Linked DNA regions of Homo sapiens. The protein of the gene in region 1 purifies or fractionates together with the protein of each later gene. This does not show direct contact. Each region holds a gene or a part of one and is shown in the gene's direction. Other genes may lie near its edges.

Region 1 (8,139 bases):
CCTTGCATCCCAGGGATGAAGCCCACTTGATCATGGTGGATAAGCTTTTTGATGTGCTGCTGGATTCGTTTTGCCAGTATTTTATTGAGGATTTTTGCATCAATGTTCATCAAGGATATTGGTCTAAAATTCTCTTTCTTGGTTATGTCTCTGCCCGGCTTTGGTTTCAGAATGATGCTGGCCTCATAAAATGAGTTAGGGAGGATTCCCTCTTTTTCTATTGATTGGAATAGTTTCAGAAGGAATGATACCAGTTCCTCCTTGTACCTCTGGTAGAATTTGGCTGTGAATCCATCTGGTCCTGGACTCTTTTTGGTTGGTAAGCTATTGATTATTGCCACAATTTCAGATCCTGTTATTGGTCTATTCAGAGATTCAACTTCTTCCTGGTTTGGTCTTGGGAGAGTGTATGTGTCAAGGAATTTATCCATTTCTTCTAGATTTTCTAGTTTATTTGTGTAGAGGTGTTTGTAGTATTCTCTGATGGTAGTTTGTATTTCTGTGGGATCGGTGGTGATAACCCCTTTATCATTTTTTATTGCCTCTATTTGATTCTTCTCTCTTTTTTTCTTTATTAGTCTTGCGAGTGGTCTATCAATTTTGTTGATCCTTTCAAAAAACCAGCTCCTGGATTCATTAATTTTTTGAAGGGTTTTTTGTGTCTCTCTTTCCTTCAGTTCTGCTCTGATTTTAGTTATTTCTTGCCTTCTGCTAGCTTTTGAATGTGTTTGCTCTTGCTTTTCTAGTTCTTTTAATTGTGATGTTAGGGTGTCAATTTTAGCTCTTTCCTGCTTTCTCTTGTGGGCATTTAGTGCTATAAATTTCCCTCTACACACTGCTTTGAATGCCTCCCAGAGATTCTGGTATGTTGTGTCTTTGTTCTCGTTGGTTTCAAAGAACATCTTTATTTCTGCCTTCATTTCGTTAGGTACCCAGTAGTCATTCAGGAGCAGGTTGTTCAGTTTCCATGTAGTTGAGCGGTTTTGAGTGAGATTCTTAATCCTGAGTTCTAGTTTGATTGCACTGTGGTCTGAGAGATAGTTTGTTATAATTTCTGTTCTTTTACATTTGCTGAGGAGAGCTTTACTTCCAAGTATGTGGTCAATTTTGGAATAGGTGTGGTGTGGTGCTGAAAAAAAAATGTATATTCTGTTGATTTGGGGTGGAGAGTTCTGTAGATGTCTATTAGGTCCGCTTGGTGCAGAGCTGAGTTCAATTCCTGGGTATCCTTGTTGACTTTCTGTCTTGTTGATCTGTCTAATGTTGACAGTGGGGTGTTAAAGTCTCCCATTATTATTGTGTGGGAGTCTAAGTCTCTTTGTAGGTCACTCAGGACTTGCTTTATGAATCTGGGTGCTCCTGTATTGGGTGCATATATATTTAGGATAGTTAGCTCTTCTTGTTGAATTGATCCCTTTACCATTATGTAATGGCCTTCTTTGTCTCTTTTGATCTTTGTTCGTTTAAAGTCTGTTTTATCAGAGACTAGGATTGCAACCCCTGCCTTTTTTTGTTTTCCATTTGCTTGGTAGATCTTCCTCCATCCTTTTATGTTGAGCCTATGTGTGTCTCTGCACATGAGATGGGTTTCCTGAATACAGCACACTGATGGGTCTTGACTCTTTATCCAATTTGCCAGTCTGTGTCTTTTAATTGGAGCATTTAGTCCATTTACATTTAAAGTTAATATTGTTATGTGTGAATTTCATCCTGTCATTATGATGTTAGCTGGTTATTTTGCTCGTTAGTTGATGCAGTTTCTTCCTAGTCTCGATGGTCTTTACATTTTGGCATGATTTTGCAGTGGCTGGTACCGGTTGTTCCTTTCCATGTTTAGCGCTTCCTTCAGGAGCTCTTTTAGGGCAGGCCTGGTGGTGACAAAATCTCTGAGCATTTGCTTGTCTGTAAAGTATTTTATTTCTCCTTCACTTATGAAGCTTAGTTTGGCTGGATATGAAATTCTGGGTTGAAAATTCTTTCCTTTAAGAATGTTGAATATTGGCCCCCACTCTTCTGGCTTGCAGGGTTTCTGCCGAGAGATCCGCTGTTAGTCTGATGGGCCTCCCTTTGAGGGTAACCCGACCTTTCTCTCTGGCTGCCCTTAACATTTCTTCCTTCATTTCAACTTTGGTGAATCTGACAATTATGTGTCTTGGAGTTTCTCTTCTCGAGGAGTATCTTTGTGGCATTCTCTGTATTTCCTGAATCTGAACGTTGGCCTGCCTTGCTAGATTGGGGAAGTTCTCCTGGATAATATCCTGCACAGTGTTTTCCAACTTGGTTCCATTCTCCCCATCACTTTCAGGTACACCAATCAGACGTAGATTTGGTCTTTTCAGATAGTCCCATATTTCTTGGAGGCTTTGCTCGTTTCTTTTTATTCTTTTTTCTCTAAACTTCCCTTCTCACTTCATTTCATTCATTTCATCTTCCATTGCTGATACCCTTTCTTCCTGTTGATGGCATCGGCTCCTGAGGCTTCTGCATTCTTCACGTAGTTCTCAAGCCTTGGTTTTCAGCTCCATCAGCTCCTTTAAGCACTTCTCTGTATTGGTTATTCTAGTTATACATTCTTCTAAATTTTTTTCAAAGTTTTCAACTTCTTTGCCTTTGGTTTGAATGTCCTCCCGTAGCTCATAGTAATTTGATCGTCTGAAGCCTTCTTCTCTCAGCTCATCAAAGTCATTCTCCGTCCAGCTTTGTTCAGTTGCTGGTGAGAAGCTGCGTTCCTTTGGAGGAAGAGAGGCACTCTGCTTTTTAGAGTTTCCAGTTTTTCTGTTCTGTTTTTTCCCCATCTTTGTGGTTTTATCTACTTTTGGTCTTTGATGATGGTGATGTACAGATGGGTTTTTGGTGTGGATGTCCTTTCTGTTTGTTAGTTTTCCTTCTAACAGACAGGACCCTCAGCTGCAGGTCTGTTGGAGTACCCTGCAGTGTGAGGTGTCAGTGTGCCCTGCTGGGGGTGCCTCCCAGTTAGGCTGCTCAGGGGTCAGGGGTCAGGGACCCACTTGAGGAGGCAGTCTGCCCGTTCTCAGATCTCCAGCTGCGTACTAGGAGAACCACTGCTCTCTTCAAAACTGTCAGACAGGGACATTTAAGTCTGCAGAGGTTACTGCTGTCTTTTTGTTTGTCTGTGCCCTGCTGCCATAGGTGGAGCCTACAGAGGCAGGCAGGCCTCCTTGAGCTGTGGTGGACTCCACCCAGTTCCAGCTTCCAGCTGCTTTGTTTACCTAAGCAAGCCTGGGCAATGGTGGGCGCCCCTCCCCCAGCCTTGCTGCCGCCTTGCAGTTTGATCTCAGACTGCTGTGCTAGCAATCAGCAAGACTCCGTGGGCGTAGGACCCTCCGAGCCAGGTGCGGGATATAATCTCGTGGTGTGCCGTTTTTTAAGCCCGTCGGAAAAGCGCAGTATTGGGGTGGGAGTGACCCAATTTTCCAGATGCCGTCCATCACCCCTTTCTTTGATTAGGAAAGGGAACTCCCTGACCCCTTGTGCTTCCCAAGTGAGGCAATGCCTCGCCCTGCTTCGGCTCGCGCACGGTGCGCGCACCCACTAACCTGCGCCTACTGTCTGGCACTCCCTACTGAGATGAACCCGGTACCTCAGATGGAAATGCAGAAATCACCCGTCTTCTGCGTCGCTCACGCTGGGAGCTGTAGACCGGAGCTGTTCCTATTCGGCCATCTTGGCTCCTCCCCTCTCCCCTCTTTTTTAATTTAAAGAACATTTACAAATAATTAGCAACTTGTTCACTTTTAAGTCATACCAAAAACATGGCTGAAAATGTGCACTGCTATTGAGAAATCCGGGGTACAAATGAAAATACAAGTAAGTACAACATGTCAAGGACTAAATAACAAGCTCTCATTCTGTTAGCATCTGCCCCTTAATGATCTTAACATCCAAAGTGTTTGAGGCTTTGTGCCAAGAACTATAAAATAAATCAAGATTTTTTTTGTTCAAGAATGTATGAGTCAGGTATTCAAATTAGCTAACAAGTGACTTTTGTTTCATAATAATTACATTTTAGAACTGGAAGGAACCCGAGAGAGTACACTGATCTGTGTAGAGACAGACCCTCTTTATCTCTTTCAAGTACATTTACATTAGTAAATATACCCTTTTTATCCCTCTCAAGTACTAGTATAGTTACGTTAGTCACTCGACCCAAACCTTAATAGGCTGCCAAAACGTTTTCATAAACGAAATGAAATGGAAATAAAACAGTAAGAGAAGAGGTTATTCCATATGTTGAACTTTGGTCCTGGGCTCTAAGCTCACCACTGTTTTAGTTAATGTTCACATGCTCAGAGATTGTTCCCCAAACCTACATCTTGGTAAGGCAGCTGGCTCCTGAGGAGTGAGGCGTCTTGACACCCACTTCACTGGAATCAGTCTCCTTCAGCATCCTAAGGCACTCAGCTCTAATGAACTGCCCGGACTCCCGTTTGCATTATGATAAGCTCCTCTTTAGAACCTCTACTGTCTGCTTTTGACAGCCGACCTCAAGGAATACTGACTTAATCCAGGAATCCCAATAACATTTAATATTTATCTTCCTTTTCTGGGAGGAATCTACACTTATCCAAGTTGCCCAAGTGAGCAGTTCCCTCCCCACAAGTAATTAGTTCTACTCCCCAGAGGGTCTGTGAGTGAATCCCTCTGTCAGTTTTGAAATGTCCCATTATAGTTTTCATCTGTAAATATGTCAATATGTATCCAAAAGATGAGGATCTTTAAAAACGTAATCATAATGCTACTATCATATGTAAAAATGAAACATAATTCCTTAATATCATCAGATATCCAGTGTTTAAATTTTTCCAGTCTCATGTTTTTGTACATTTTTAAATAATCACATGTTTAAATCGTTTCCATCTCCAAGGCGTCGACCTCCCCTCCATTCTCCTGGGCGTCGCGCTTCCCTCTTTGTTTCCCGCCCTTGCGGTTCTGTCGGAACCTAACGAGCTTCCTTCCACCGCAAAAGAGCTGGAGAACAATGCTAGGCAACGTGCTGGAGACCTTGGCCCTCGGAACCCAAGTCACGCCTCCCATGTGAGCTCTGGAGGGAGAACTTTATGTGTTGCACTGAGGGCAGTCTCCGGAAACGCGATTCGCAGCGGGCGCCGGAAGCGGTGTTGTGTCTGCAGCTCTGGCAGAGGACTGTTCCACTAGACACGCTGAAGGGACTGGGTACGTGTTTTCCTTCAGGACCAGAGCTGAGAGGAGCTGGGATCGCGGCGGCAATGGAACGGGCCTCAGAAAGGCGCACGGCCAGCGCGCTTTTTGCGGGGTTCCGGGCCTTGGGACTTTTCAGCAACGACATTCCACACGTGGTGCGGTTCAGCGCGCTCAAGCGCCGGTTCTATGTAACAACCTGCGTGGGCAAGAGTTTCCACACCTATGACGTGAGTGACTTCTTTTGTTAGCTTCCCAGGAAAACCACCCTCCTTGGCCTCTAACTCTGTCCTGGAGCAGTCCGGTTCTCCCTTCCCATTTACCACGGGCTTCCCTTCTTTAACCCCTCCCTGTCCTATTAATATTTCGCCATCCGGTCACGTCCACGTGCTGATTTGGCACTTGCAGTCCTCCTGGGGCGTGTTTCAGAGGCAGCCTGGCCAAGGGGAAACTGCTAGAGAACATCTCAGTTGTATGGCAGTAATATTTGTTCAGTGAATATTTATTGACCTTCCCTTGAAGGTGGAAACATAATTAAGACAAACCTCTACCTCTTGCATTCTTAATGAGAGAGAAAAACATGCACGCTATTACGTTATTGGTGACACGAGCTGAGTTAGAAATTCACTCTAGGTAGAATACATTGGGAGAACCGGAGATGGTGAGATTAATTACCGTTAGGGAAAATATCTAATAGCAATCAGTTATTTTCAACTAACGCAAAGTGTCTGGCACTGTCACTCTAAGCCTTGCAGCCGTTTCTTTGCAACATAGGTGTCATTATACCGTAGCACCTTTATATAATCTATTAAAGTAAATTTCAGATAAATCACTTGTTAGTGATGATTTTTTCTCCTATAACAGTTCATCGATCATTGTAATAGTGTCTCTTGTTTACTTGTTTCTTTTGTCTTCTCCGAAAGAATGTAACCTCTGTGAGAACAGAAACCTTGATGAGGAGGATGATAATAGTCAGTGTTAATTAAGTACTTTCTTTTCTGGAAAACAGGTAGAGTTGTCTCTCTTGGAGGATTGTGAATATCAAATGGCTTATTAGCAAAAAGAGCTGGGAGGTAGGAACTAGTTGAGTTAGTGGAAAAGGAAAGTGAGGGCAGAGCTGAGGTGAAGAGCAATTGGGTTTCTCAGAGTCTGAGCTGGTAATGGAGACAGGGTGGGTTAGAACCATATTAATCATGTGAAAGTATTTAGTGTTACCATTCTCTGCACTTGTTCCTTGCTTGCTAACTTTTGCTTTTGCTGGTTAATGTTTTCTTCCTTGAAATGTAATTTTTCTGAGTTTATTACTGAAATAACTCTTGAAATCTTGTCTTTGGTACAGTGTCTTTCCTGACACTGCATTACACACAGACACAGGTGTTTTTCCCTATATTCTACTTCCAAAGAAACCCTGTGGTGAGGAGAGTAACATATTTGTACATTTTATAAAGTTAACAATTTACTTACTGTGTGTTGACATTTAGTCATAATAAAGATGGCTTTTAAGTTCTCCTCTAGTTCTAACACTGATGATACATTCGTAACATCATGGCATGTAAATGTTCTTTACCCAGACTGTACACTGCTCAGATTAACCAATGCATTGGGCTGTGACCTCTAAAACTGAAAATACTTGGGAGTAAAAAGAAAAAAAAAAGGAGCTAATGAACCTAAGTCACTAATTGGGTCTACAAGTGCTCTATCCCATGACTATGGCTATATATGCTGTCCCCAGTCAGACTTCCTACAGTCCTACAGATTAGTTTCTTCTACAGGGGAAACTAGACAAGTTGTGAATAGGTGGTGGTAGTGATGGTAGTAGCTATCATGTATTGAGCAGTTACTATATGACTGGCCCCATTCTGTTTTACACAAATTTACTCATTGAATCCTCATAACAATCCCATAAAGTAAATAAATACCTGTTTTACAGATGAAGAATTTGAGGCACAGGGAGCTTATTTTTCCAGGGTCATACAGCTGGATCAGTAGCCATGATTGGGGTCAGCAAATTACAGTCTGTAAGCCAGTCTAGCCCACTGTTTGTTTTTGTATGACCCAGGAGTTACGAATGATTTTGACATGTTTAAATGTTTGTGGGGGCAGGCTGGGGGTAGGGAGAAGGATATTTCATGACATGAAAACTATGTGAAAATCAAATTTCAGTATCTATAGATAAAAGTTTAATATACCCATGCACATTATTTATCTATTACGTATGGCTGTTTTCATGCTACGGTGGCAGAAGTGAGTAGTTGGCAACAGAGACCACATGCATTGCCTGCAAAGCCTAAAATATTTAATATTTGGCCCATTATAGAAAACATTTGCCTACCCCTTCCATCACCACTCCTGGTGAAATACAGTTGAAAATATAAACTTTCCTAATAAAGAAAATTAGTGTCAGTAAGTGTCTTTCTTATGAAGGACAGCATAGCAAATATACGTATGAGGTTATATCTTAATCTTCAGGTGTTAGGTTATTATGATTATGTTTGTTAATGAAAATTTAACCTTTTTTCTTTTTTAAACAGGTTCAGAAACTTAGTCTGGTTGCAGTAAGTAAGTATGGACTTTATTCTGAATTTATGCACATCTAAACTTTTTTTTTATTTTGACATAAATGTGAGACTTACAGAGCATATAAGGAAGCCAAGGTAACATGTATGTCTTATAAACTTACATTATCAGCAACAAAAAAGGGTGCCAGGATAAATCATGTTTTGCTTTTAGTTGTTATGTATCTTTATTTTCTTTAATCTGGAACTGTTCTTTAGACTTTCTTTGTGCTTCATGACATTGACACATTGACATTTTTGAAGAGTACAGGCTCATTTAGAATGTCCTTCAGTTTGAGTTTTTTTGACATTTCTTCAGGATTAGATTTAGGTTGTACCCCTTGGGAGGAATCACAGTGAATTGTATCAGAAGGCACATGCTGTTAGTTGGTTCTGTTCCTGGTAG
Region 2 (7,397 bases), on another chromosome or scaffold:
TTAGGGATTTTGCCTTGTTAATAGTGTATTTCCAGTGTCTAGAATGGTGCCTGTCTAATTGGTAGGTTTTCAATAGATATTCATTGAAAAATATGTTCAGTCTCAGACTGCCAATCTCTGTGTAAAAGCTTTGATGCTGGTTTAATGGGCAGAAGTAAATCAGTTTAGCTGCATTGAGCCTATAATGTCAGATATGCATGAGGTGGGCATGACAACGTGACTAATTTGGAACTTGAGGAATGAGGGATTATATTGAGTCAACACTGAATAAAAAATGATGTCCAGGTATTTTAGGTCAATGATTCATTTAGAGTAAATAAAGATTAAGAAGTCACAAGTTACATGCTTTTAATGACATGATCAACAGTTGGTGTTGTTCTGGCGCAGTGGCTAACACCTGTAATCCCAGCACTTTGGGAGGCCGTGGCGGATGGATCACTTGAGGTGAGGCTTTCGAGACGAGCCTGGCCAATATGGTGAAACCCCATCTCTACTAAAAAAAAAAAAAAAAAAAAAATTAGCCGGGTATGGTGGCACATGCCTGTAGTCCCAGCTACTCGGGAGGCTGAGGCAGGAGAATCGCTTGAACCTAGGAGGTGGAGTCAGCTGTGAGCCAGGATCCCACCACTGCACTCCAGCCTGGGCAACAGAGTGAGACTCTGTCTCAAAAACAAAAAAACAGTTGGTGTTTACTAACCTAGTAGAACCAAGGCACCCAAGGAGCTGAGTTTTCTTTGTTTATATGCACAGATTGCTTCACCTGTGGTATCAGACATCACAACATGGGGCTCACCAAGCAGTACCTACGCTATGTTGCTAGTGCGGTCTTTGGCGTTATCGGCAGCCAAAAAGGTAATATTGTCTTTGTGACACTTCGTGGTGAGAAAGGACGTTATGTGGCAGTACCAGCTTGTGAACACGTTTTCATCTGGGACTTAAGGAAAGGAGAGAAGGTGAGCCTAAAATGACCAGTTTGATACTGATTTATTGGTATTTGAGGATGGAGAGGTAGTAGAAGTGGGGGGGCTCTGATTTATTTATCATGAGTTTTTTTGTGTCTGTGCCCTTAGAAGAAAAATCTTTTTCCTTTAGGTCTAGCTAGCCAAGCATCAAGTTCCTTTGTGTTCTTCGCCACTGAATTCTGAAAACCACAATGAAATAGGAGCTTATTTCTTAGATGTCTATTTGTTGGAATATTTACAGGTCATTATTTGCAGTAATTATTTATTCCTGATGTATTTTTTCTCTACCAATTCTATTTTTCAAGCTCGACTTATGCTTATAGCTGGTTATAAAATATTAGGCATGTAAAAGGAAGGTTAGTCTATTTTGGCAGAATCTTTTTCTAATATGGATAATGCCCAAGTGTTGTTAAAGTAGACTTTGATACTTTGTGTGACTGAATTCCCTAAGCCTACCACTTTTGCCAAACCAAATATAGGCATTTTGATATTGTCCATTCATTTTGTGATTCCCAAGAGGTTAGTACTTTGATTCTTGTTGCCACCAAGAGTCCTTTGTGGTTAAAACCACTGCAGTACTCTGTTGCCACACAGATTATTTTCTTATAAAATGGGTCTCAGTTAAAGGAATTTATAAACCTTTATTGAAAATCACGTAGTGTTGTTCTAGGGTTAAGAATTAGATTAAAGGGATTAAATTTATTTTATTGCCTAGGGAGTTTTTATATGTATTACAACAACGTAGGGCTTTGGAGAAAATAATTAAGCCTTTTCTTAAATGTTTCATTGCCTAGTACAAATACTAATTTCTATATTAAAAAACTTGAAATGGATTGTGGAGTTTCATTTTTATTCATAAGAGTAATTTGGAATTATTGGTGCTCTTAATTTTACTGTGCCTGAGTATTCCTATGCTTTTCCCTTGAGTTCATGCTTAACTCTTCTACATTGTTTTTAATTTTTATGATTTCAGATTCTTATCCTTCAGGGGCTTAAACAAGAAGTTACTTGCTTATGCCCCTCCCCAGATGGGCTACACTTAGCTGTTGGGTATGAGGATGGGTCGATCCGAATCTTCAGTCTCCTGAGTGGGGAAGGAAATGTGACCTTCAATGGTCACAAAGCAGCTATCACTACCTTGAAGTATGATCAGCTAGGAGGCAGACTGGCATCTGGGTCCAAGGTGAGCCTTTGAATCAGCCCAGGCTTTGATCTATTAAAGGAATGTAAGGCTTATGCTGAAGCAAGTTGTTGACAAAAATTGTCAGGTAAAACAATGGGCTGTCAATATACAAAGTAGTATAATGATAGAGTGAAGAGGATGGGTGTGAATTGGGTGGTTCATTTTGTTTCCTTTTGTTCATTTTGTCATATTTTCTGATAAAAGCCTCTTAAGTGTAGGAATAAGATGAAGAGAGCCATGATAACTCTTATTGTGGAAGTGCTACGCAAAACAGTAAAATAAGGAAAGAAAACAAAGACTGGAAAAGAAGAGACAAAATAATTATTTGCCATTGACTTCTGTAAAGTCAGTAGAATTTCCTGTATCTCACAAGTCATGAGTTAGAAAATATAAAAGATTCCATTCACAACAGATTAAGTAACAGACATAAAAATACCATGAAACTTTACTGAAGAATGGAATAGAAGACTTTTATAGAGATATAATCCATGTTCTTGAATGGGAAGACAAGGTATTGAAAAGATGGTAGTGTTTTCTAATTGATTTATATAGCTAAAGCTATGTTTAGACATATGTTTATATAGATACAGATATATTTAAATAGATATCTTAAAGGTTTTAGTTGTTACTTAGAACTTGACCTAATATGGAAAAGCAAAGGAATTGGAAACACTAAAATTTGGGAAGAAAAGAATAATAAAACAGGGGTTTTAGATATTAAAATGTCATATAAACCCATAATTTAAGAAGTATCATATTGATACTTCAATGCAAGTACCAATGCAAAATAGATTATTGCAACCAAATGGAAATCTCAGAAACACATCCATGATTACATTCCTAATTAGTATATTTTAAAGACGACATTTTAATAAGTAGAAAAATGATAGATTACTTATAAAACAGTCCTTAGACAATTGGCTATTTGAGCGAAATTTTTAAATTAAAGCTTTACCTCATGCTATATACCAAAATGAAACAAAGATTAAAGACTTAACTATTAAAAAATAGCATTTTAAAGTAAACTAGAAAATATGTAAGTAAATATCCGATAGCAAGGTAGAAAAGGACTTTATTAGCAAAGAAATAAATTAAAAAAGGAAACTGTTGGTAGATTGGAATACTTGAAACATTTGTACATTAAAAACAAGTCAGAGGACACTGAAAAAGTTAAAATATTTAATATTTTCAATATAAAAAGAAAGGATTAGTATCATTCATCTATTAATAACTTACAGTCAAATAAGAGATGACACTCTAAGAATGATAGACAAAAGAAAGTCATGAATTGGCAATTCAAAAGAGATACTTTATGGCCAATAATCACCATAAAGCATGTAAAATATTTCTCATTTGTATTCATAAAAAATGTAAATTAAAATAAATATTAAGACTGAACATTTTTTACTTATGATATTTGTAGTAGTTTTTGAGAAAACTAATAATAGAGTTAAATGAATGGGGAACAGGCCTTGTCATACATATCCCTGCTGGTTCTATAGATTTACCCAACCTGGAGATCATTTTGATAGTATGAATCCAAAACTTTAAAAATAAACATATCATATAACCCAAGAGCTTTTCATTTTAGTTTTTTCTAATCAGAGATACATACAGAAATTTGTATATAAGAATGTTCACTTCTGCATATTTATAACAGCAGAAGGTTGGAAACTAAATGTCTGAAACAGAAAAATTTTTAAATAAGTTGTGCTATTACTTTAGAATTGATTATTATGTGAGCATTAAAAATGTGAACACTCTGGAATAACATGGAAGAAATGGAAATAATATTAAATGAATAAAGAAAAGGTTGTAAAATGATATGAATGGCATGATTTTAGTCTTCTAATAGGAAAATAACCTGGATTATACATAAAGACTAGAGCAATAACAATGTCTGGGGATTATTTCTGGTTGGTGAGAATAAGGCTGGTGTTTATTCCCCTGTACTTTCCCCATGCTTTCCAAATTTTCTGTAAGGACTGTGTATTGCCTTTTTAATAATTAAGTCTCATTGTTTGTCAAGTTGGGCCATATATGGTAAAGAAAATTATTTTTCATCTGTATTATTTGATCCCTTTAGGACACAGATATTATTGTATGGGATGTGATCAATGAAAGTGGTCTGTACCGTCTAAAGGGGCACAAGGATGCCATCACACAAGCATTGTTTCTACGAGAAAAGAACCTGCTAGTTACTAGGTAAAGAAATAATGGTTTAATTTCCAGTTATTTTCTAGGAAGAGAGAATTTGCTTTATTCCTTACTCATTTCTCTCATGAGCAGTGTGCTCATGCTTATGCATTAGTTTTCTCTCCTGTTCTCCTGCATTCCTTCTTTCCATTTCTTCTAAGTAGTATCGTAGAGCTATCCAAAGCTATATTATTTTTAAAATCATTTTTCTAATTTGTCATTCTTTTTTCTTGATATCAGTTTTTCTGTGTTTCTTAGCCTTTTGAAACTCATTATAGAATGAGCTTTGTCTACCTTCTAGATCTCTAGAAAGCCAGGAATCAGAATATGGAGCAGAGGGAAGATATGAATACCAGGTGTTAAATTCGGCTTGCCTTTTGAGGAGAGATGTACTGTACTTCATAGGCCTTCTGAACACCTATTAGGATGAACCATTTGAAATTTTTATTTGTGTACATAAAAAATCATCAAATATCAACAATTTTATATTGTTCAACCTAATATAATAATGAATATTCCTAAAGAATGGCCACCTAGGAAAAGCTGGGATACCAAGGTTTGCCAGGCATTAATTAGAGGAACCATAGTAATGACTCAGAAAAAGCTGTGAGCACTAAATGCTTTACCAATGGTGGATTTGTTTCTGTGGGATAGGATACAGGTAAATTAGTGTCTTGTTCAGATAACACAGGTTCTGTAAGAGAATGATTCTATAGTTCTAATAGAAAAAATATATATTACAGCTTAGGGAATATAAAGGCAAAGAAATAACACTGTAAGGTGGGGTTATATGGGACGGACTTTGTAAATCAGGTTTTTGAGCGGTGTTTTTTTCCAGTTTGCTCATGAAGGAGGATTATATTAGATTTATGTAGTGAGGAGGTAGGGAAGAGGTGTTTGAGCAGGAGTAGTAGAGGCCATTGGCTGCGAGAGGTTATATTTAGGGGGTTAAGAACAAATAAATAGGAAATTTTGAGACTGCTGCCAATGAGCCTGACTTTGATTCTACAGGGAACATTGAGCTAGTGCAAATATTAAAAATTAAGGTTATCTGACAGTTGCACATTGGATGGGATGAGAGAACAGCAATGGACAAAGAGACCAAATGAGAAGCTGTTAAAATAATCCAGGTAGTAGGACTTAAGTTCAGGTTAGTGTACAGAAATGGACTAGAGGAGTTAATACTTAGAAACTTCACAGAGGAGGCATTTTCAGGACAAGAGACTAACTGGACAGGAAGACAAGGGAGTGGGAGCGGTCTAAGATGTTTCCATGGTAGACTGTCTGAGGGGAATGCCAGTGCTGTGATGATGGAAATGATAGGAGGAAGGCCTGATGGATCAAATTCTGTATTCTTTGGTACTCTGCATCTAAAGTCATTCTTGTGCTTATAGGTGGAACATTTTATTTTCTGCACAGGAATAACTACAAGGAAAGTTAGGATTCTTTGCTTTTCAAAAGTAAGATCAGAGAGAATCGGAGCTTTAGACATTATTGAAGCATATGTTCCTTTTAAAGCAACAGTGAGTTTTGGATCTCCCTATTCGTTGAATGAGTTTTCCTAAACAGGCTATATATTTTTTTCCTGTTTCTTCTTTTAGTGGGAAAGATACCATGGTGAAATGGTGGGACCTTGATACTCAGCACTGCTTTAAAACAATGGTTGGCCACCGGACTGAGGTAAGTGTAGGGTCATGGGCCCAGGGAAATAATGGGAAGGCAAAAGGGAAAAGGTGGTGGTCTTCTCTTCCCCTTTCATGGCTCTTTGTTTTTAGTGCACACAGTAATTATCATATGCCATCTTGAGGGACAGTGAGGCTGGTATGATGGAAGCAATGCCAGCCATTGGAGCAGATACTGCTGCTCTGACATGTAGTAAAAATTGGCCTTGCGTGGTTTTTAATTCCTGAGTTTCATCATTTCTAAATAATAAGTGTCCACTTTTATGAATGTAGGGAAGTTTAATGATATTATATGTGCAGCACCTAGCTTATTGACAGGTAAGCAGCACGTGGTAGCTGTTAAAATAGTTACTTGAACAGAGATCTATTCAGTTGAGTTCAGGGACTGTTTTTTATATATCTTTGCATCCTCAGTGCTTTATTCATATCAGGCATTCAGGAAGGTAATACCTAGAATTAATGACAAGAAGATTAAATTCTTTGTTGATTTGCAACAATATTATTTTCATTATTTAATTCCCGGATACTTGAAGCTGAAAGTTATGCAATGGACATTAGTGGGGCACCTTTTATTTGCTAGACACTGCTAAAAGCAAAGAAATAGAAGACTTAAAATCATCATTTGAGTGGATTCTAGTTAAGATTTATGCTGAACAGCCATTATCTTAATTTGATTATACGAGGTTAGAGACAAACTGCTAGTATCACAAAAGTAACAATTTCACCGCAGGCCATTTTTTTCTCTGTAAAAGTGAGACTTCTCTTAGTGCATTTTGAAAGGGTTGTCGATATGCCTTTTCTTTGCCTTTAAATTGCTAGACATTTTACTACGGTGTAACAGACTTTTGGAATGTCATATTATGCTACCTGGAATCTCTTGAAAATCGTATTACTCAAATCTTTTTATATTCTATAGGTATGGGGGTTGGTTCTGTTGTCAGAAGAAAAGCGACTCATCACTGGGGCCTCAGACAGTGAACTGAGGGTATGGGACATAGCTTATCTGCAAGAGGTAATTACTTCTTAAAATCATGGGCAATATGTTTAGAAGTTTCATAAGCACCTTGGATTTAGAATCAGATGTAATTATTCAGTACTTCACATCATATTAGAAGGAATTCTATCACACCAATAACCTGCAACACTTAAAAAAGCTTTTCTTCCTTATATGCTCATTATCCTTATTTATTTGAGCTCAGGTTAGCTTTAGGCTTACAGCTTCTGGTAATACTAATGTTTTAGTTTGTGGCACTCTTAATCAGATATTCTTGGACCTTTGGGTGTCCATGGATGGCCTTCAGAATATCTGTGAACCTTTCCCCTCAAATATATATGTAGAATTTTATGTTTATAAATATGTATATTCTGAAAAGA
Region 3 (7,397 bases), on another chromosome or scaffold:
TTTTGAAGGAAATTAAAAGTGCTACTCCAGTGAACACACAAATTACAAGAAAGCCAAAATAGCCTTATTGCAGATACGGATAAAAGTTTGAGTGATCCAGATAGAAGATCAAACCAGCCACAACATTCCTTTAAGCAAGTCAAAGCCTAATGCACAGCAAGGCCCTACCTGTCCTCTGTTCTGTGAGGGCTGAGGTGAGGAAGCTGCAGGAAAGAAGTTGGAAGCTAGCAGAGGTTGGTTCATGAAGTTTAAGGAAAGAAGCCATCTCTACAACATAAAAGTGCAAAGCGAAGCAGCAAGTGCTATGGAGAAGCTGCAGGAAGTTATCCAGAAGATCTAGCTGAGATCATTGATGAAGCTGACTACACTAAACACAAAATTTCAATGGAGACAAAACAGCCTTCTATTGGAAAAAGATGGCCAGGCGCAGTGGCTCATGCCTGTAATCCCAACACTTTGGGAAGCCAAGGTAGGCAGATCATTTGAGGCCAGGAGCTTGAGACCAGCCTGGCCAATATGGTGAAACCCCGTCTCTACTAAAAGTACAAAAATTAGCCAGGCATGGTGGCACATTCCTGTAATGCCAGCTACTCAGGAGGCTGAGGTGGAAGAATTGCTGGAACCTGGGAAGCAGAGGTTGCAGTGAGCTGAGATCGTGCCAGTACACTCCAGCCTGGGCAACAGAGCAAGACTCTATCTAAAAATAAATAAATTAAAAAAAAAGAAAAAGATGCCATCGAGGACTTACATAGCTAGAGAAAAGTCAGTGTCTGGCTTCAAACAACAGGCTGACTCTCTTATTAGGGGCTAATGCAGCTGGGGCCATTAAGTTGAAGCCAGTGCTAATTCACTGTTCTGAAAATCCTAATGCCCTTCACAATGATGCCCAAGCTACTCTGCCTGTGCTCTATAAGTGGAACAGCAAAGTCTGGACGACAGCACATCTGTTTACAGCATGGTTTCCTGAATCTTTCCAGCCCATTGTTGAACCCACTAAGGTTCCTTTCAAAATATTTCTGCTGTTGGACAACGTACCTGGTCACCCATGAGCTCCAATGGAGACGCATAAGGAGATGCTGTCTTCATGCCTGCTAACACCACATCTCTTCTTCAGCCTACGGGAGTAACTTTAACTTTCAAGTCTTACCATTTAAGAAATATATTTTATAAGGCTCTAGCTGCCAAAGATAGTGATTCCTGTAATGGATCTGGGAAAAGCCAATAAAAAGCTTTCTGGGAAGGAGTCGCCATTCTAGTTGTCATTTCATGATTCATTCAATGAGGGCAAAGTGTCGACATTAACAGGAGTCTGACAGAAGTTTAGTATCAAGCCTCATGGATGACTTTGAAGGGTTCGAGACTTTGGTGGAAGAAGTTACTGCAGATGCAGTAAAGATAGCAAGAGGATTCGAAATGAAAGCAGAGCCTGAAATGGGACTGAATTGCCGCAATGTTGCCATCAATCTTGAATGAATGAGGAGCTGCTGCTTGTGGATGAGCAAAGCAAGTGGTTTCTTTTCTTTTTTTTGAGACAATGTCTCACTCTTGTCCCCCAGGCTGGAGTGCTATGGCATGATCTTGGCTCACTGCAACCTCCACCTCCTGGGTTCAAGCAATTCTCCTGCCTCGGGCCCCCCTACCAAGTAGCTGGGATTACAGGCGCCTACCACCACGCCCAGCTAATTTTTGTATTTTTAGTAGAGAAGGAGTTTCATCATTGTTGGCCAGGCTGGTCTAGAACTCCTGACCTCAGGTGATCCACCCGCCTCAGCCTCCCAAAGTGCTGGGATTACAGGTGTGAGCCACCATGCCCGGCCAGCAAGTGGTTTCTTGAGATGGAATCTACTTCTGGTGAGGATGCTGTAAAGACTGTTGAAATGACAACAAAGGATTTAGAATATGACATCAACTTAGTTGATAAAACGCTGGGAGCATTTGTGAGGATTGACTCCGGTTTTGAAAGAAGGTCTGTTGTGGGTAAAATGCTATCAAACAGTATCACATGCTACAGAGACATCTTGTGAAAGGAAGAGTCCATCGATACGGCAAGCTTCACTGTTGTGTTAGGAATTGGCAACGGCCACCCCGTTTTCAGCAGCTGCCACTGTGCCTGGTCAGCAGCCATCCACATCGAGGCAGACTGTCTGCCAGCAAAAAGATGAAGACTCACTGAAGGCTCAGATGATTGTTAGCATTTTTTAGCAGTAAAGTGTTTTTAAATTAAGGGATGCACGTTGTTGCTTTAGACAGAATGCTTGTGCACACTGATAGACTACAGCACACATGAGTAGACTGCAGCGCACACCAATAAAGTACACACTTCGACGACAGTACACACGAACAGACTACAACTCACACGAATAGAGCACAGTGCACGCTTACAGACTACAGCACACGCTAGTAGACTACGCCGTACTGTTTACAGTATGGTGTAAACACAGCTCGGCTGCTTATGGGGAAGCTGGAATGTGTGTGCCTCACTCAGTTGCAGTGTAAGCGTTATCTGCAGCATCTCCGCGGGATTCCTGTAGCCCCTTATTTTCCATTTTTCTAGCAACAGTGTTACATGGGTGCACTGTCATGGTGGTTAATTCCTGTTGGGCACTTAGCTTGCTTCTGGTATTTTGATGTCACACTGAGGCGGAATAATCCTCTCATCATATCATCCTGGAAGCAGAATTGATGTATCCAAAGCCCATTTTTAAGGCTTTTAATGCATTTCACTAGAGTTCCTCCAGGGACAACGTCATTTCTTTTTCTTTTTTTTTTTGAGACAGAGTCTTGCTCTGTCACCTAGGCTGGAGTGCAGTGGTGCGGTCCCAGCTCACTGCAACCTCTGCCTCCCAGGTTCAAGCGATTCTCCTGCGTCAGCCTCTTGAGTAGCTGGTATTACAGGCGCCCACCACCACGCCTGGCTAATTTTTTGGGTTTTTTTGTTTGTTTGTTTGTTTTGAGGCAGAGTCTTGCCCTGTCGCCCAGGCTGGAGTGCAGTGGTGCAACCTTGGCTCACTGCAAGCTACACCTCCCGGGTTTACGCCATTCTCCTGCCTCAGCCTCCTGAATAGCCGGGACTACAGGCGCCCGCCACCACACCCGGCTAATTTTTTGTATTTTTAGTAAAGACGGGGTTTCACCGTGTTAGTGAGGATGGTCTCAATCTCCTGACCTCGTGATCCGCCCGCCTTGGCCTCTCAAAGTGCCGGGATTACAGGTGTGAGCCACCGCGCCTGTCCAATTTTTTGTTTTTTGTTTTTATAGTAGAGACGGGGTTTCACCATGTTGACCAGGCAGGTCTCGTACTCCTGACCTTATGATATGCCCGCCTTGGCCTCCCAAAGCACTAGGATTATAGGCGTGAGCCACCGTGCCCGGCCAACAATGTCATTTCTTTTTCAGGAGTGGGGGGTATCCACAGATGAGCTCTGGCTTGTGGGGTCCAGTAAGATTGGAGGCGCTACTTGGGGAGGGTGAGCCGCTGGTCCCAGGCCAGGCCTGGCCTGTCTCCCTCATGTGACTTGAGGACCAACAGCACACTGTGGTTTTTGTCTTTATCAGCAACAAATCTGACACGCTGCCCCTGGCCACTCGGTACAACGTCAAGTGCGTGGGGCTGTCCCCGGATGGCCGCCTCGCTATCATCGTCGATGAAGGTACTTGCCCTTGATGTGGGCGGGTACTGAGGGGACCAGTGAGGAGGACTCAGGGCTGTGTGGGTCTGAAATGATCCGCTCCCCAGTCGCCTCCGTGTTGGGGCCCGGGTGGGGATTGGGGATGAGGGTGTCATGGGCGAGGCTGCGTCCCCGCCGCAGGCTGTGTCTGTGGCATCACCTGTGGCAGGGCAGGGCCTCATGGCCCTTGGGCATTCTCAGTCCTGACTCCTCACAGTGGACGCGAGAAAGACCTTTCTCCGTTTTTCCCGTGCTATGTATCTGGGGTGGCCCCTGGGGTAGCTGCGCGGTGGTGACCTCTGGCGTCCTGCAGGGGGCGATGCGCTGCTGGTCAGCCTGGTCTGCAGGTCTGTGCTGCACCACTTCCACTTCAAGGGCTCTGTGCACAGTGTGTCCTTCTCCCCTGATGGCAGGTAAGGGGGACAGCTTGGGGGCAGGAGGGTTCGGCCGTGCATGCCGACGGTGAGGCCCACTGCCCAGCTCGTTTCCCTGGGCCCCGGGTTGTGACGTTGGGTTGGGCACACGGCCCAAGCTCTGGCATTGGTGACCCCCTTTTCTGGAGGAGAAGGCTTGGTGCGGCCAGGCTGCCCTCCCTCCAGGGCTGTTTCTTCCCTGACTTTTGCTTCCTCTGCTCCTTGGCCTCCATCCTGCAGGAGGCGGGACTCCAGAAGGCCCAGGTGGGTGCAGGCTGAGACTCCACAGTGGCCTTAGGGCCATTGCTGGTCTTGAATATCAACTATGTCCGCGTTCCTTCCATAGGAAGTTTGTTGTCACAAAGGGTAACATTGCCCAGATGTATCATGCCCCTGGGAAGAAGCGGGAGTTCAACGCCTTCGTTCTGGACAAGACCTATTTTGGGCCCTACGATGAGACCACCTGCATCGACTGGACGGATGACTCCAGGTGCGGCCTCAGAGGCTTCGGGGGAGCGGGGCTTGAGAGAGGCCCCTTGGACAGGTCACCCCCTTGGGCCCTGCAGCTTCGTTCCGCAATGGCATCTCGGCCTCCTTTGGGGCTGGGCGCTGCCCACACCATCAGGACTGGCTGGGTGGCTGTGGTCGAGTCTTTGCGGCTCTGAAGTGTGTGCTGTGGCCGAGCCTCCTGCCCCTGCACTGCCCTTTCACCTGTTTGTCCCAGAAACTGGGAATGCTGTGGTTGGCTCGGGCAGCGTCTGGGAGGAGTTAGGAAGGCAGACAGGGCAGGGACAGCGTCTGGGAGGTGTGAGGAAGGCAGACAGGGCAGGGGCTGTGCCGGGGTGTCTTCCTGTGCCTGGAGGCGTCTCAGCTCACTCTGAGACCACGTGGGGCTGTAGCGGTCTCCGTGCAGCCCTCTGGAGCTTGCACCTGGCTGCTTTGTTATGGCCAAGCCCTGAGGAGGTGCCATCTCCCTCTTTTCCAGGTGCTTTGTGGTTGGGAGCAAAGACATGTCCACCTGGGTGTTCGGAGCCGAGCGCTGGGACAACCTCATCTACTATGCACTGGGGGGACATAAGGATGCCATCGTGGCCTGCTTCTTTGAATCCAACAGCCTGGACGTATGTCCCTTTGCCAAGTTCCCTAGCCTGATGGTGGCCAAAAGCGGCTAGTTCAGGGAGGCCCCAGGCTGCAGGCGGCCTCTTCCTGCGGTTCCCCCAGGCTGTTCCCGTGTGGCCTGGGGGCATCTAGGGACCGATGGCAGCTGTGGCGGCCCATCGAGAATTGTTCTCAGAGTTCAGAGGGGCCGTCGGTGCCACTGGTCCCTGGATCTGAGCTGGAGGGAGGTGCCGGGTTGTGGCAGCTGGGCCAGTGTGGCTGGGGCTGGGGTGACCCTGTGCTTCCCCTTGCAGCTGTACTCACTCAGCCAGGACGGAGTGCTGTGCATGTGGCAGTGTGACACGCCCCCCGAGGGCTTGCGGCTGAAGCCCCCTGCGGGCTGGAAAGCAGACCTGTTGCAGCGGGAGGAGGAAGAGGAGGAGGAGGAGGACCAGGAGGGCGACAGAGAGACCACCATCCGGGGAAAAGCCACTCCGGCCGAGGAGGAGAAGACAGGAAAAGTGAAGTACTCACGGCTGGCCAAGTAGGTCTCTGAGGTGTGGTGGGCTGTGGCGGGGCACTCCTGTGGGAATCTCTTGCCCCCAGAGGGATCTGGATGTGGGGTCCCCAGGGCCGAGGAGTGGGAGGTACAGAGAGCAGGCCTGCGTCTCAGGGCCCCGGTTTGAGCACCCTCGAGTGCTTGGGTGTTGACCCTGCCCCTTAAGCAGGGTCCCTGCCTCGGCTGTCTGAGCTGCCTGTGTGCCCAGGGCAGGGCAGAGGGCGGTGGGTAGGGGTGCATAGGGGGCAGGGAGGTGTGCGGGCACTCCGTGACGGGAATAGCAGCACCTTGGGCCCTAAGGGGGTTGGGAGTTGTCTGTGGCCCCACCAGCTTCTGTGGAGTTTGGTGTGGGCGATAGTCCCTTGGCCTCGTGCAGGGAGATGCCGGGAGAGCATTTGGCAAGGGTGGAGGGAGGGACCGGGCTGTGAGTGGGCGCAGCGAGTGGTCTGAGTCCTGCTTCGGGGCCCGCTGGTGGGTGGTACTTGGTGCTTTTTCAGGCACTGAGCTGGGCCGTGCAGCCCCGCATCCGGACTCAGTCCCCCAGACGAGACGAGATGAGATGAGACTGAGCCCGGCCCCACGGACTGCCTGTGGGATGGCCTTAGCTGTGCCTGGAGCCCTGGCAGAGATGCTGCCCTGATTCGGGGTGTCCCGCGTCTGGGCTGTGGGGGGAGGCTGGTCAGGATCACATGAAGGCAGAGTTGCCCGCAGCTATGGTGTCTCCGTCACCCGGGTGCCCCAGCCTGGGCCCCTCCTTGCTGCAGTTGCTTAGCGCCTGCTGTGTGCAGGGCTCTGAACTTGGCACTGAGACACACTGCCCACCCTTGTGAGGCCTCCTCTCCGCCGGGGAGGAGAGGTGCAGTGATGAGGTGGCTGCGTGCGGAGGTGGGCGGCAGTTGGGGTCCCTGGGTGGGGAAGGCGCCCACACAAGGCCCTGCCTGTGGAGGGAGCCAGGCGGCCAGAACGGGCTGCCTTTGGAGGGGTTGGGGTCTGCTGGGTAGGTGGGAGTTGTGGCCATGAGAGCCCTGGGTCTGAGGAGCAGGGAGGGCCGGCTGGACTCCAGTGGGAGGAGGGTGCTTTGCCAAGGGCAGCGGAGTTGGAGGGTGGCCAGAACAGGTCCAAGTGGGTCAGTGCCCACAAGTGAGTCAGTGCCCGCGGGTGGGTCAGTGCCCGTGAGTCCGTGCCCGTCAGTGCCCGCGGGGACTTGGGGGTGTTGTGCTGGAGTCAAGACTTGAATGGGGACTGGAGGAAGAGGAAGGGATGATGGGCCCCCCAACCCCGCCCTGGGGAAGGGAGGTTCCAGGCAGCTCCAGGAAGACAGTGTGCCTGCTAGGCGGGGACTGCGGGCTGTCAGCGCGAAACATGTGAAGGGAGGGCCTGCTGCATTGGCAGCCAGTGCTCCCTGTCACTTGTTCAGGAGGGACGGGGTCCAGAAAGGAGAGGGAAGGACCAGGGCTGAGCTACAACGTGACTTGGGGAGGTTTTGAGGGCGGGGGTGCCATCAGGGTCACCTTCGTCTGCTGATGGGGACCGAGGGTTCCTTAGAGGAGGAAGCAGCAGGGGATGATGGGATTCGGGTGTGCCTGGCGGCCATGCCGCGCCTCCCGCACCTCCTCTGCCTCCCATGGGCACTGCTGTCTCTGGGTGCACCACTAGCTC

The links. Proteins that work in one complex are often made in the same cells at the same time.
Region 2: the proteins of WDR36 (region 1) and WDR3 purify together in Homo sapiens (affinity purification with mass spectrometry; 2 studies listed by BioGRID and IntAct, with this or other methods). This does not show direct contact.
Region 3: the proteins of WDR36 (region 1) and PWP2 fractionate together in Homo sapiens (co-fractionation; 3 studies listed by BioGRID and IntAct, with this or other methods). This does not show direct contact.

What each region holds. Positions count from the first base shown.
Region 1 is NC_000005.10:111,087,211-111,095,349, forward strand, and holds the start of WDR36 (WD repeat-containing protein 36), read left to right. Parts: upstream 1-5,137; 5' UTR 5,138-5,246; coding exon 5,247-5,408; intron 5,409-7,709; coding exon 7,710-7,737; intron 7,738-8,139. UniProt on the Homo sapiens protein: Part of the small subunit (SSU) processome, first precursor of the small eukaryotic ribosomal subunit.
Region 2 is NC_000001.11:117,932,538-117,939,934, forward strand, and holds part of WDR3 (WD repeat-containing protein 3), read left to right. Parts: intron 1-750; 5' UTR 751-782; coding exon 783-953; intron 954-1,935; coding exon 1,936-2,145; intron 2,146-4,231; coding exon 4,232-4,350; intron 4,351-5,942; coding exon 5,943-6,021; intron 6,022-6,939; coding exon 6,940-7,035; intron 7,036-7,397. UniProt on the Homo sapiens protein: Part of the small subunit (SSU) processome, first precursor of the small eukaryotic ribosomal subunit.
Region 3 is NC_000021.9:44,110,198-44,117,594, forward strand, and holds part of PWP2 (periodic tryptophan protein 2 homolog), read left to right. Parts: intron 1-3,555; coding exon 3,556-3,650; intron 3,651-3,981; coding exon 3,982-4,081; intron 4,082-4,427; coding exon 4,428-4,571; intron 4,572-5,066; coding exon 5,067-5,202; intron 5,203-5,493; coding exon 5,494-5,723; intron 5,724-7,397. UniProt on the Homo sapiens protein: Part of the small subunit (SSU) processome, first precursor of the small eukaryotic ribosomal subunit.